3 linked regions of the Homo sapiens genome follow. The protein of the gene in region 3 purifies or fractionates together with the protein of the main gene of each other region. This does not show direct contact. Each region holds a gene or a part of one and is shown on either strand. Other genes may lie near its edges. The genes, in order: RNASEH1, DAPP1 and SERPINF2.

The links.
Region 1: the proteins of SERPINF2 (region 3) and RNASEH1 purify together in Homo sapiens (affinity purification with mass spectrometry; one large-scale study listed by BioGRID and IntAct). This does not show direct contact.
Region 2: the proteins of SERPINF2 (region 3) and DAPP1 purify together in Homo sapiens (affinity purification with mass spectrometry; one large-scale study listed by BioGRID and IntAct). This does not show direct contact.

The regions. Positions count from the first base shown.
Region 1 is NC_000002.12:3,544,693-3,548,337, forward strand, and holds part of RNASEH1 (ribonuclease H1 isoform 1 precursor), read right to left. Parts: intron 3,364-3,645; coding exon 3,239-3,363; intron 1,200-3,238; coding exon of another isoform or gene 1,180-1,199; coding exon 1,093-1,179; 3' UTR 1-1,092. UniProt on the Homo sapiens protein: Endonuclease that specifically degrades the RNA of RNA-DNA hybrids.
Region 2 is NC_000004.12:99,847,754-99,851,398, reverse strand, and holds part of DAPP1 (dual adapter for phosphotyrosine and 3-phosphotyrosine and 3-phosphoinositide), read right to left. Parts: intron 1-3,645. UniProt on the Homo sapiens protein: May act as a B-cell-associated adapter that regulates B-cell antigen receptor (BCR)-signaling downstream of PI3K.
Region 3 is NC_000017.11:1,741,508-1,745,781, reverse strand, and holds the start of SERPINF2 (alpha-2-antiplasmin isoform a precursor), read right to left. Parts: upstream 2,912-4,274; 5' UTR 2,874-2,911; intron 2,784-2,873; exon of another isoform or gene 2,714-2,783; coding exon of another isoform or gene 2,706-2,713; intron 1,449-2,705; exon of another isoform or gene 1,236-1,448; coding exon of another isoform or gene 1,192-1,235; intron 791-1,191; coding exon of another isoform or gene 787-790; coding exon 724-786; intron 608-723; coding exon 569-607; intron 450-568; coding exon 387-449; coding exon of another isoform or gene 377-386; intron 75-376; coding exon 1-74.

The sequences.
Region 1 (3,645 bases), on a different chromosome or scaffold from region 3:
ATACATTTGTTTTGTGTCACTTCCTGTATGTTTTTATAATAAAAAGGTTTAAAACTAAATAAATAATCATGTCAAACTTTTACTACTTTTTTTTTTTTTTGAGACAGAGTCTCACTCTGTTGCCCAGGATGGAGTGCAGTGGTGCAATCTTGGCTCACTGCAACCTCTGCCGCCTGGGTTCAAGTGATTCTTGTGCCTCAGCCTCCCAAGTAGCTGGGACTACAAGCCCGTGCCACCACACCTGGATAATTTTTGTAATTTTAGTAGAGACAGGGTTTCGTCATGTTGGCCAAGCTGGTCTCAAACTCCTGACCTCAAGTGATCTGCCCGCCTTGGCCTCCCAAAGTGCTAGGATTACAGAAGTGAGCCACTGTGCCCAGCCGGTGTCTTACTTTTTTTTTTTTTTTTTTAATTTGCACAGTTTTTAACGAAAGAGCCAAATAAATTTTTGAAAGTTTATTTATGCTTCTTGGTCTTTATGAGTCGCAGCTGTTCCTAGAGAATGGCCTAGCAGCCAGGGTCGCCGCAGGCAGGCTTTGCCCTATACTAACTGCCCAGCAAGCAGGCACATGGGGCTGAGACCCAGCACACATCCTGCCCACTGAGCTGTCCGCCCAGGCCCTGGGCAGCATGTTCCTTTAATGTACCCATGGGCACAAGTCACCTATACAAGCAGGAGACTCAAACCTGTCAACTGGACGGTAAATGGATGCTTTCAGAATACTTCCAGACTTCTGAGTTGCATCTTTTAACCAATGGTTTTTTGATTTCTTATCAAAATATAAGCCACAGCATTTTAGGCCATTTGCCTTGCTTGCCTGCAATAAAACAAGCAAGGACAGTATTGAACCCAGTAAACATAATGTGGAAATCTCACATAATTCTCCAATCTCAAAGATGTTCAATTTATTATATACTTAACCATTTTTTATAAACACATGTCACAGAAGGCCACTGTGCCTGATTCCGTGTGAAAGACGCATCTGCCCATCACTGCAATGGTCCTACCTGCAGGCTATTTTCCACACCAGTAAGTACAGGCAGCAAGACAGCCGCTGGCTCAAGTTCTCCCAAGGACTAAAGTCACATGGCTCAGTCTTCCGATTGTTTAGCTCCTTCTCTGGCTAATCTGTCAGCTTCTTCATTGCCTATAAATCCCGAATGACCAGGAACATGCATCTGTTAAGATAAATGTTTTCCTTTTATTTTTACTCATCTTTACATAAGCAACACATGACTATATTGTCATCATAAAAAACCATTCAGAACAGACTGCACAGCATAAGCTCAACTTCAACGCTCCTCTCCCCAGACATGATCCTCAACAGCACGCTGTCCATTCTTCATGCGTTTACGCAATGGATGTGATTTACGAACATTCCATTTTGTTTTTTCACAAATTGGATTTTACCGTTCATGTTGCTATTTCCTCCCCACTTATCAATGGGACTTGATAAGCTTTCCAGGCAAAACACATGTATGTACAGATGGGTGGACGGATATGTATGCAACACACACACACGCTTCCCTTGCAGTGCTGTCAGAAATAATGTACTTATTTAACCACTGTTTACATTTATGTTGCCAAAGCAAATTTACACATCAGGCTACCAAACTATTATCAGTGGTTCCAGGAAGGCAGAACAAGGCAGGGTTGAGACAGTGGCTGCAGTGTAATTTGTTCTCTATTGCTTGAAAAAAACTTTTTAATAAACATGATCTATGATTTTAAAAAGTGCTTCCATCTTGGAATAAAAGTTCTATTACCAAGGCTTTAATCATACAACCTTACTATTGTTTGAAACAAAATACACTGATAGTTTTATTTAACATTATGATGCATTCCAAAGAAATGAACAGGGTGACATACAGCTGTCATAGTAATGCCATGTGCCCAGGTTGGGTGTTACTTCGTGTTCTTAACAAAATATAAGGATTGTAGAACATCCCTCAAACCACACTGCCTGTGTATTCTATGCCTAGTGACACTCTCACTAGAATTGTATTACTTGTGGTTGCAGCGAGCCGAGATTGCGCCACTGCACTCCAGCCTGGGCAACAGTGCGAGACTCCATCTCAAAACAATAAAAAAAAGTTTGACATGATTATTGATTTAGTTGTAAACCTTTTTGTCATAAAACAAAAACATATAGGAAGTGACACAAAACAAATGTAATCCCAGCACTTTGAGAGGCCAAGGCAGGTGGAATGTTTGAGATCAAGAGTTCAAGACCAGCCTGGGTAACATGACAAAACTCCATCGCTACTAAAAATACAAAAATTAGCCAGGCGTGGTGGCATATGCCTGTAATCCCAGATACTTGGGAGGCTGAGGCACGAGAATCACTTGAACCCAGAAGGCAGAGGTTGCAATGAGATCACGCCATAGCCTGGGGTGACAGAGTGAGACCTGTCTCAAAAACCAAACCAAAAAACTGTATTACTTGTATGATAAGGAAAATAATCAAATTTGTGTATGTGGGTGGGTTTGTTTTGTTTTTCTGAGACAGGGTCTCACTCTGTCGCCCAGGCTAGAGTACAGTGGTACAATCTTGGCTCACTGCAACCTCGACCTCCCCAGCTCAAGTCATCCTCCCACCTCAGTGTCCTGAGTAACTAGACTACAGGCATGTGCCACTACCCCTGGCTAATTTTTTATTTTTTCGAGAAACAGAGTCTCCCCATGTTATCCAGGCTGGTCTCGAACTTCTTGGCTTAAGTAGTCAGGCCATTTGGGCCTCCTAAAGTGCTGGGTTACAGATGTGAACCACTGAGCCCAGGCTCACATATTTTTTTTTTTTTTTTGAGACGGGGTCTTGGAGTCTCATATCGTTGCTCAGGCTGGAGTGCAGTGGCGCGATCTCAGCTCACTGCAACTTCCGCCTCCTGGGTTCAAGTGATTCTCCTGCCTCAGCCTCCTGAGTAGCTGGGACTACAGGCACACACCACCATGCCCGGCTAATTTTTGTATTTTTTAATAAAGATGGGGTTTCACCATACTGGCCAGGCTGGTCTTGAACTCCTGACCTCGTGATCCACCCACCTCAGCCTCCCAAAGTGCTGGGATTATAGGCGTGAGCCACTACGCCCAGCCTCAAATACGTTGTAATATACATTATGATATTAATATCATGGAAATTGTTATGTCATTAAACCACTTACATAAACCATTAATCTCTAGTAAACTTAGCTTATTTGGTCATAATGGCCATAGGACATGAACATTTAAGATACTCACCCACTGAATGTCCATCCCCTGGGTAAGCCTCTCCAGTGCCACAAAGTCCTCTTTGTTGATCACCTCTTTCCCTGCACTTGTCTTCCACCCATTTTTCTTCCAACCTTGAACCCAGTTAGTTATACCTACAAAAATGCACGATCACTGGTGAGTCAATCTTGAGTGTCCTGCCTTTTTCACCTCCTTAGTCTTACCTCTTATAATTGATCCCACTTGTATTCTGAGTCACCATCCTTGACTCTTCACTTCCTTAGCTGGCCTTAGTTGCTTTGGCCTTTGGCACAGCCTGAAATACCCTCCTCTCTTCCCTTTCCCCTAACTTGTATTCTACCTACAGCTGTCAGCTTAAGATGTCATTTCTCCCAGGAGCCTTCCCCAGCCTCGTAAGCATCCCCTACATGCTCCTA
Region 2 (3,645 bases), on a different chromosome or scaffold from region 3:
AGGGTGTCTGATCTCGACCTCAGAGAAGAATGAAAGCCTCTGGCCCTTCCTCTTTCTGTCTCTCATTGGCATTGCAGCATTGGGATCACAATGAAAAACAGATTTTGCCATTATCAGAACCGTCCCATTCTTGCACATTGTGCTCTCTTTTGTCAATGTGATCTTCCCATAAGAACAGATCCAGTCATATGAGGAGAAGGGGCCGGCTACAGTTTTACAGTCAGAATGAAAGCAGCAGTACCTATATCAAGAGTAGCTGCTGTGCAGGCTCAGGGGCTCTGTGAACACAGTGCTCACATTGTAGATGCATGGTAAATTCAGCGCTGGCTCCCAACCCTAAGAAACACTCCCAGTGATGTGCTTCATAGTCACTCTGGACCCTTGGAAAGAGCACTGGATGCACAGGCAGAGGAACAGGGTTCAATTGTCACTACCGCCATTCAGTACTTATCGGCCTTGGACAACCATTACAAGCTTCTGCTCCTTACTAGTGAGAATAATTATGCTTCCTTCAGAAGGCACCAAATAAATGTTTGTGGGAGAATGATAACATATTAGATATTATTATTCTTTGACAGAATATTTTTAAATCCTTAAATAAAATTTGAATGATTGCATCTTTGGGGACATGGATTTTGAAATCTTAAAAAAGACCTAGACGCAACATTCTGCTAGGAATAAAAATGGTGGTAGTCTAGTAATCACTACTTGTGATTAACTATAGTTAAATTGGTGCCTCTCAAACACTTTCACCTTACAGAAGAGGAGAGGGGAACTGAAGCCTAGGGATCAAAGCAGCTCCCAAATTAGATACATTTTGAACTCTTATACTTTATCTTCAAAGTTGATGCTTAATTTTCATTCTACTTCATATATTTAATACTTAATATGAAAATAATGCTTTAAATGACACTCCAGAAAGATGTACTTAGTTGATACGACCAGGCACACACTTCACATAATAATACCTGTGTTAATTTTTTTTTTTTGAGGCGGAGTCTTGCTCTGTCACCCAGGCTGGAGTGCAATGTCACGATCTCAGCTCACTGCAACGTCTGCCTCCCAGGTTCAAGCGATTCTCCTGCCTCTGCCTCCCAAGTAGCTGGGAATACAGGCATCCACCACCACACCGGGCCAATTTTCGTATTTTCAGTAGAGACGGGGTTTCGTCATGTTGGCCAGACTGGTCTCGAACTCGTGACCTCAGGTGATCCACCCGCCTCGGCCTCCCAAAGTGTTGGGATTACAGGCGTGAGCCACTGTGCCTGGCCTAATTTTTTATTGCTATTGTAGCAAATTGCCACAAACATAACAGCTTAAAACAACTCAGATTTATCATCTTACAATTCTGGAAGTCAGAAGTTCGAAATGGGTCTCACTAGTCTAAAACTGGCAAGGCTGCTTTCCTAGTGGAGGCTCTAGGGAGGATTCATTCCTTTGCATTTTCCAGCTTTCAGAGGTGCCCTCATGTCTTGACTTGTGGCCATTTTCCTCTGTCTTCAAAGCCAGTAACAGCCAGTCAGATCCTTCTCCTGCTGCCATCTTTCTGGTTCTCTCCCTTCTGGCTCCCTACTACTTATGAGGACCCTGTCAATTACAGTGGTCTTACTTAGACCATCTAGGATAATCTCCCCACCCCAAAGTTATTTGATCAGCTGCCTTAATTCCATCTGCAAACTTAATTCCCTCTTGCCATGTAACAATATATTCACAGGTCCAGGGAGACATGTGGACGTCCTGTGGGGGCATTATCCTCCTACCACAGTATCAGTCCCTGGAGGAGAAATAGCCACCGGGGCCAGTTGCGCTGCAGGGTAAGGATCTCTGGGCTGGGCTGCTGCCTGAGCCTGCAGTGCTGTCACCTCTTGGTATTAGACAGCCACTGCCTTTCCAACGTGTGCATTTCCAACCTCTGTGAGCCTCTTCAGCGCACCTATCAGTCAAATTTATCTTTGTATCCCTACCACTTGATAGAGTTTCTGACATAATGAAGGCAGATGAGTGAATGAATTAATGAATGAATGCTACAGTAATGCAGGCTTGAACCAAGAAAGAACCTGGGATGAACCAGCCTCCCAGGTCCACAATTCTCCAGGCCTGAGGCAAGAAAGGACAATAACCGCAGGCATAACTTTTCAAATCTCTGTTGGAGGAACCCAAATTCTATTTTGAAAACCTCCTCTAAAGTTTAATTCAACAAAAGTAAAACAAAGGAAAATGGCATTGAGTCAACCAAGAGAGTAAAACTGACTGTAGATTGATTTTAACTAGTAACCCCACAAATGAGGCTAAACTAAATTGTGAGATGAAGATGACAAAGTACTTATAAAACGGCAACTTATACTGATAAAAATCTGGTGTCCTAAAAGACAGTTCTCCTTAGATGACTATTCTTGCCCAAGGAAGAGCCAATATACAGACTTCTTGGCATGGCTGTGAGGCTTAATGATTTCCCCTTCTGCAGAGATTGTACCTCCCAGTATACAGAGATAGGTTCCCTATAACCATGTTATACCTCCAGACCTGGCCCGGCCCTCGAATACCTGACCTGGTCACACTAATTGGATTCACTTCTTGGGGATCCACTTAATTGCTTCTCTAGAGAGAAGGTCCACCAACTCAATTTCTGAACTACATGAAGTAGACTATTGTTTCCTGCCTTTGACATGAAACCTGGTTTCAGAAAGGCTGAGCGGAGGTACACTTCTGAGACGATCAGAGATGAATCAAGACAGACACATCAATTGACTGAAAGCCTCAGACTTGCCATGATTACTAAGCAGATTCCTTGTTGTCTCTTGGTTGTTCAACTTGCCCTTAAATTCTGGGAGGGTATATTGTTAATATCCTTTTAAAAAATTCTGCTCCTGGGCAGGGCGCGGTGGCCCATGCCTGTAATCCCAGCACTTTGGGAGGCCGAGGCATACGGATCACAAGGTCAGGAGATGGAGACCATCCTGGCTAACACGGTGAAACCCCGTCTTTACTAAAAAAAATACAAAAATTAGCCAGGCGTGGTGGCATGCGTCTGTAGTCCCAGCTACTTGGGAGGCTGAAGCAGGAGAATCCCTTTAACCCGGGAGGCGGAGGTTGCAGTGAGCCGAGATCGTGCCACTGCACTCCAGCCTGGGCAACAGAGTGAGACCCCATCACAAAAAAAAAAAAAAATTCTGCTCCTGTTCCCTGTTCTTGTACCCTACTCACTTAAAAACAAAATCAAAAACAAGACCAAAAAAACCCAGCTAGCCAGAGCTGGTTTCTGTCATTTCCAATCAAAAGAAACTTATCAGCCGGGCGCGGTGGCTCATGCCTGTAATCCCAGCACTTTTGGAGGCCGAGGGGGCGGATCATGAGGTCAGGAGATCAAGACCATCCTGGCCAACATGATGAAACCCCGTCTCTACTACAAATACAAAAATTAGCCGGGCATGGTGGCGCATGCCTGTAATCCCAGCTACTCGGGAGGCTGAGACAGGAGAATCGCTTGAACCAGGGAGTCAGAGGTTGCAGTGAGCCGAGATGGCGCCACTGTACTCCAGCCTGGCAACAGAGTGAGACTCTGTCTCAAAACAAACAAACAAACAAACAAACAAACAAACTTATCTACTGTCGCTACCACAGACTCTTAATACTTTGCCTCCAAGG
Region 3 (4,274 bases):
TGGGTCTGCTCTGGGGTGGGGTCTCTGCTGCAGACTCCTGGGGGACTCTTCAGGGCAGTCTGGCCACCAGGCTCCTGCAGGGACAGATCAGGGGTCAGGGAGGTCAAGGGGTCAGCTCCAGGTTCTGTGTTGAAGGCCTTGTCACAGCCCCTGTGCCTGAGGACAGCAGGGCCTTGTCCCAGCCCCAGGGAAGAGGGAGCGTCAGACGGAGGGCACTGGCATTCTGGGGCCTGGCGCCCACCTTCGGTCCTCCCCACCCTCTCTCCCTTCTGGCCTCTGGACTCCAGAGCCTCAGCCTCAGCACGCGCCCCCACCCCCCGACCCCTGCCGATGGGCCCTCCTCCCTCTAGCCCCGCCCACTCTTCCCCAGCCCCACCTGGTTGTACCTGGTTGCCCAACTTGAGGAGGGTAAGTGGGGACACCTGCTCCTGGTTCGGCCCGCTAGTTAGCTGCGGAAAGGAGCAAGCAGATGGAGACCGACCCTTCCCACAGGCCCCCCACCCTGCCCAAGCCACCAGTGAGACCCCCGGGACCTTCCCCCCATCACAGGCTCCTCACTCCCCAGTACCTGCCGGCCCAAGGGCTCCATGGCGCTCACAGGGGAGAACTGTGGAGAAAGGGATGAGGATAGGAGGTCCCCTCGGAGCCAAGCCCTCCCTCCATGCCAACGCCCCTCTTCTTCCCCCTCCACCCCACCCCACCTTGACTTCAGCCCAGCCTCACCACGGAGCAGGGGCCTTGCAGGCAGGACCAGCTGAGCACCAGGAGCCCCCAGAGCAGCGCCATGTTCCTGTGGCAGGGACAGAAAGCTCTGTTCCCATCTCACATCCCCACGCCCGCCAGGGAATCCTACCCACGCGATCACAGATAACGCCAAGTCCTGGGTCATGATTGCCAAGGGGAAGAAGCAGGCTCCAGAATCAGAACAGACCCCAAACACACGAGCAGCGGCTCCCACTCCTGCAGCTGGGACATCCGCCCTGGCTTCTCCCCCTTTTTAGTTTCTGGTGTTTCATATTTCATGCATTTCATGCACTGAGGGTGTTTTGGTGAATAGGAGGGAGATACCAAATCAAAAACGTTCTCATTCTACAAGGCCCTGCGCTGTGAATCAGATCTGTGTCTGAATCCAGGCTACCTCTTGCCAAAGGACCTCGGCATTTCCCGTAACTCCACCAGGCTTGGCCTTACCTTGTAAAACGGTGGCACAAGTCCCTCACTCTTCTCACATGCATGGTGAGGACCAAAATAAGACCGTCTTTTTGGGATTTTTTGTTGTTTATTTTTTGAGACGGAGTTTCGCTCTCGTTGACCAGGCTGGAGTGCAGTGGCAGGATCTCGGCTCACCGCAACCTCCACCTCCCAGGTTCAAGCGATTCTCCTGCTTCAGCCTCCCGAATAGCTGGGATTACAGGCATGCACCACCACGCCTGGCTAATTCTGTATTTCTTAGTAGAAACGGGGTTTCTCTGTGTTAGTCAGGCTGGTCTTAAACTCCCGACCTCAGGTGATCCTCCTGCCTCGGCCTCCCAAAGTACTGGGATTACAGGCATGAGCCACTGCACCCGGCAAAAGACCATCTTTGTGGCCAGGCACGGTGGCTCAAGCCTGTAATCCCAGCACTTTGGGAGGCCAGGGGCAGGTGGATCACCTGAGGTCGGGAGTTCAAGACCAGCCTGGCCAACATGGTAAAACCCCATCTCTACTGAAAATACAAAATTAGCCAGGCGTGGTGGTGGGCCCCTGTAATCCCAGCTACTCGGGAGGCTGAGGCAGAGAACTGCTTGAACCCGGGAGGCGGAGGTTGCAGTGAGCCGAGATCACGCCACTGCACTCCAGCCTGGGCGACAGAGCAAGACTCTGTCTCAAAAAAATAAATAAGACCATCTTTGTAAACCCTGAGTACAATGCTTGGCACTCCCCCGATGGCTGGGGTCAGCTTGGCTCAAGGCCACCTCTTCTGGGAAGCCTGCCCTGAAGCCTCCACCGCAGAGCTCCAACACAGAGCTCCTACCCAGCCTGCTGCATCCATTTAGCCTGTCTTTTTTTTTTTTTTTTTTTTTTTTGAGATGGAGTTTCATTCTTATCATGCAGGCTGGAGTGCAATGGCACGATCTCGGCTCACTGCAACCTCCACCTCCTGGGTTAAAGCGATTCTCCTGCCTCAGCCTCCCGAGTAGCTGGGATTACAGGCATGTGCCACCATGCCTGGCTAATTTTGTATTTTTAGTAGAGACAGGGTTTCTCCATGTTGGTCAGGCTGGTCTCGAACTCCTGACCTCAGGTGATCCACCTGCCTCAGCCTCCCAAAGTGCTGGGATGACAGGCATGAGCCACCACGCCTGGCCCCAACCCGTCTTTCTCAGGCTGGTCAGGTCTTGCCCACAAGGCTGGACATACCTGTGAGGCCCTGAGGTCTCACCATGGGTGGCAAGGCAGCCAGAGAGCTGCCTTTTGACCCAGCAGCAGAGCCCAGTGAATGACTCTGGCCAGAGCCACCTCTGCACTTAGGAGCATCACAGGCCTCTGCTCCAGGCTGGCTCTGGGAAGGGCAGGTGTTGGTCTCAGGAGGATAAGTCAGAGCAGGTCTCAGCTACCTCCAGCCCACCCCCATCTTGGGGCCAACCCTTCTGGAGGATCCTTTGGTCCCCCCGGCCCCACCCCCATCCCACACAAGAGCCCTTGGCCAGGGCCCCGACTCCGACCTGGGCATTAGAATCTTCTTGCCAAGAACAGGCTCCAGTTTTTCAAGTCCCAGAAGAGGCTGGGGAGTGACAGGCCTCCTGAATAAATCCCAGACCCCTCAGCCAGGGAGGCAGCTCCCTCCTCCTCTCCTACCCAAGGAGCAGGCCGAGCAGCCCCTCCCCTCATACCTCTGCGGGCTCCTTGCTGCCACACACAACGTTCCTCTGGCCCCACTTGGGTGCTCCTCACTCTCTGCCCAGGCTCCAGCTGGCCCAGCCCACCCCTCCCCTCCCACCAGGACCTTTACTCTCAGCCAACCCCTGTTCAGATTGCTTTCTCTTCTGGTAAATATTGACTTGCACATCCAGTTAAACATTGATCTTGAAGCCAGAAGCCCCTTTCCCACCAGGGCATCTAACCCTGAGGCAGCCACGCAGAACCCCCTATATTTGGGTCCCCCCCCCCGAGCCTGGAAAGAGAAAGTTCAGGAGGAGAGAGTTGAAGAGACTGGATCTGGCTAGCCAAGAGGGCGGATCCAGAAAGCACAGGAACCTAGCACTGTGTTAAGCCTTCCAGAGACCCCACGAGGTGTGGATTATCCCTGGTTCAGCCAGGCTCAGAGAGGCCATGTGACCTGCCCAAGGACACAGAGCTGGGCTGAGGCACATCCAGATTCTCACTCCCAATGTCCTTTCTTCTCCCAGAGAGCTGCCTCCCGCTCCTGAGGGGAGGAAAGGGGAAGCCACAAGAGCCTATGCAGAGAGCCCAGGATAGGAAGCCCACCCCCAACCTTCCAAGCCCAGGATCAGGTTGGCTGCCTTCAGACTGGGATGGAAGGCAGGGGGTGAGGGAGGAGAAATGAGAGGGACTCAACTTCTCCCACCGTCCTGCCACTCCAGAGCAATGTCTCTTTCCCCTACCCAAGAGCGAGGGTTCTGGAAACTGACCTGGGGCTGTATGAACCAGAAGCCTGGCAGCCCGTGCAAAGATCAGGCTGCTTCCCACCCTCACTGTCCGGCTCCTCACTCCCTGCATCAGGCTCCTTCCCACCCTCACTGTCCTGCTCCTCACTCCCTGTATCAGGCCCCTTCCCACCCTCACTGTCCTGCTCCTCACTCCCTGCATCAGGCCGCTTCCCGCCCTCACACCTGCTCCTCACTCCCTGCATCAGGCTCCTTCCCACCCTCACTGTCCGGCTCCTCACTCCCTGCATCAGGCTCCTTCCCACCCTCACTGTCCGGCTCCTCACTCCCTGCATCAGGCTCCTTCCCACCCTCACTGTCCTGCGCCTCACTCCCTGCATCGGGCCACTTCCCACCCTCACTGTCCTGCTCCTCACTCCCTGCATCAGGCCGCCTCCCACCCTCACTGTCCGGCTCCTCACTCCCTGCATCAGGCCGCCTCCCACCCTCACTGTCCTGCTCCTCACTCCCTGCATCAGGCTCCTTCCCACCCTCACTGTCCTGCGCCTCACTCCCTGCATCAGGCCACTTCCCACCCTCACTGTCCTGCTCCTCACTCCCTGCATCAGGCTCCTTCCCATCCTCACTGTCCAGCTCCTCACTCCCTGCATCAGGCTCCTTCCCACC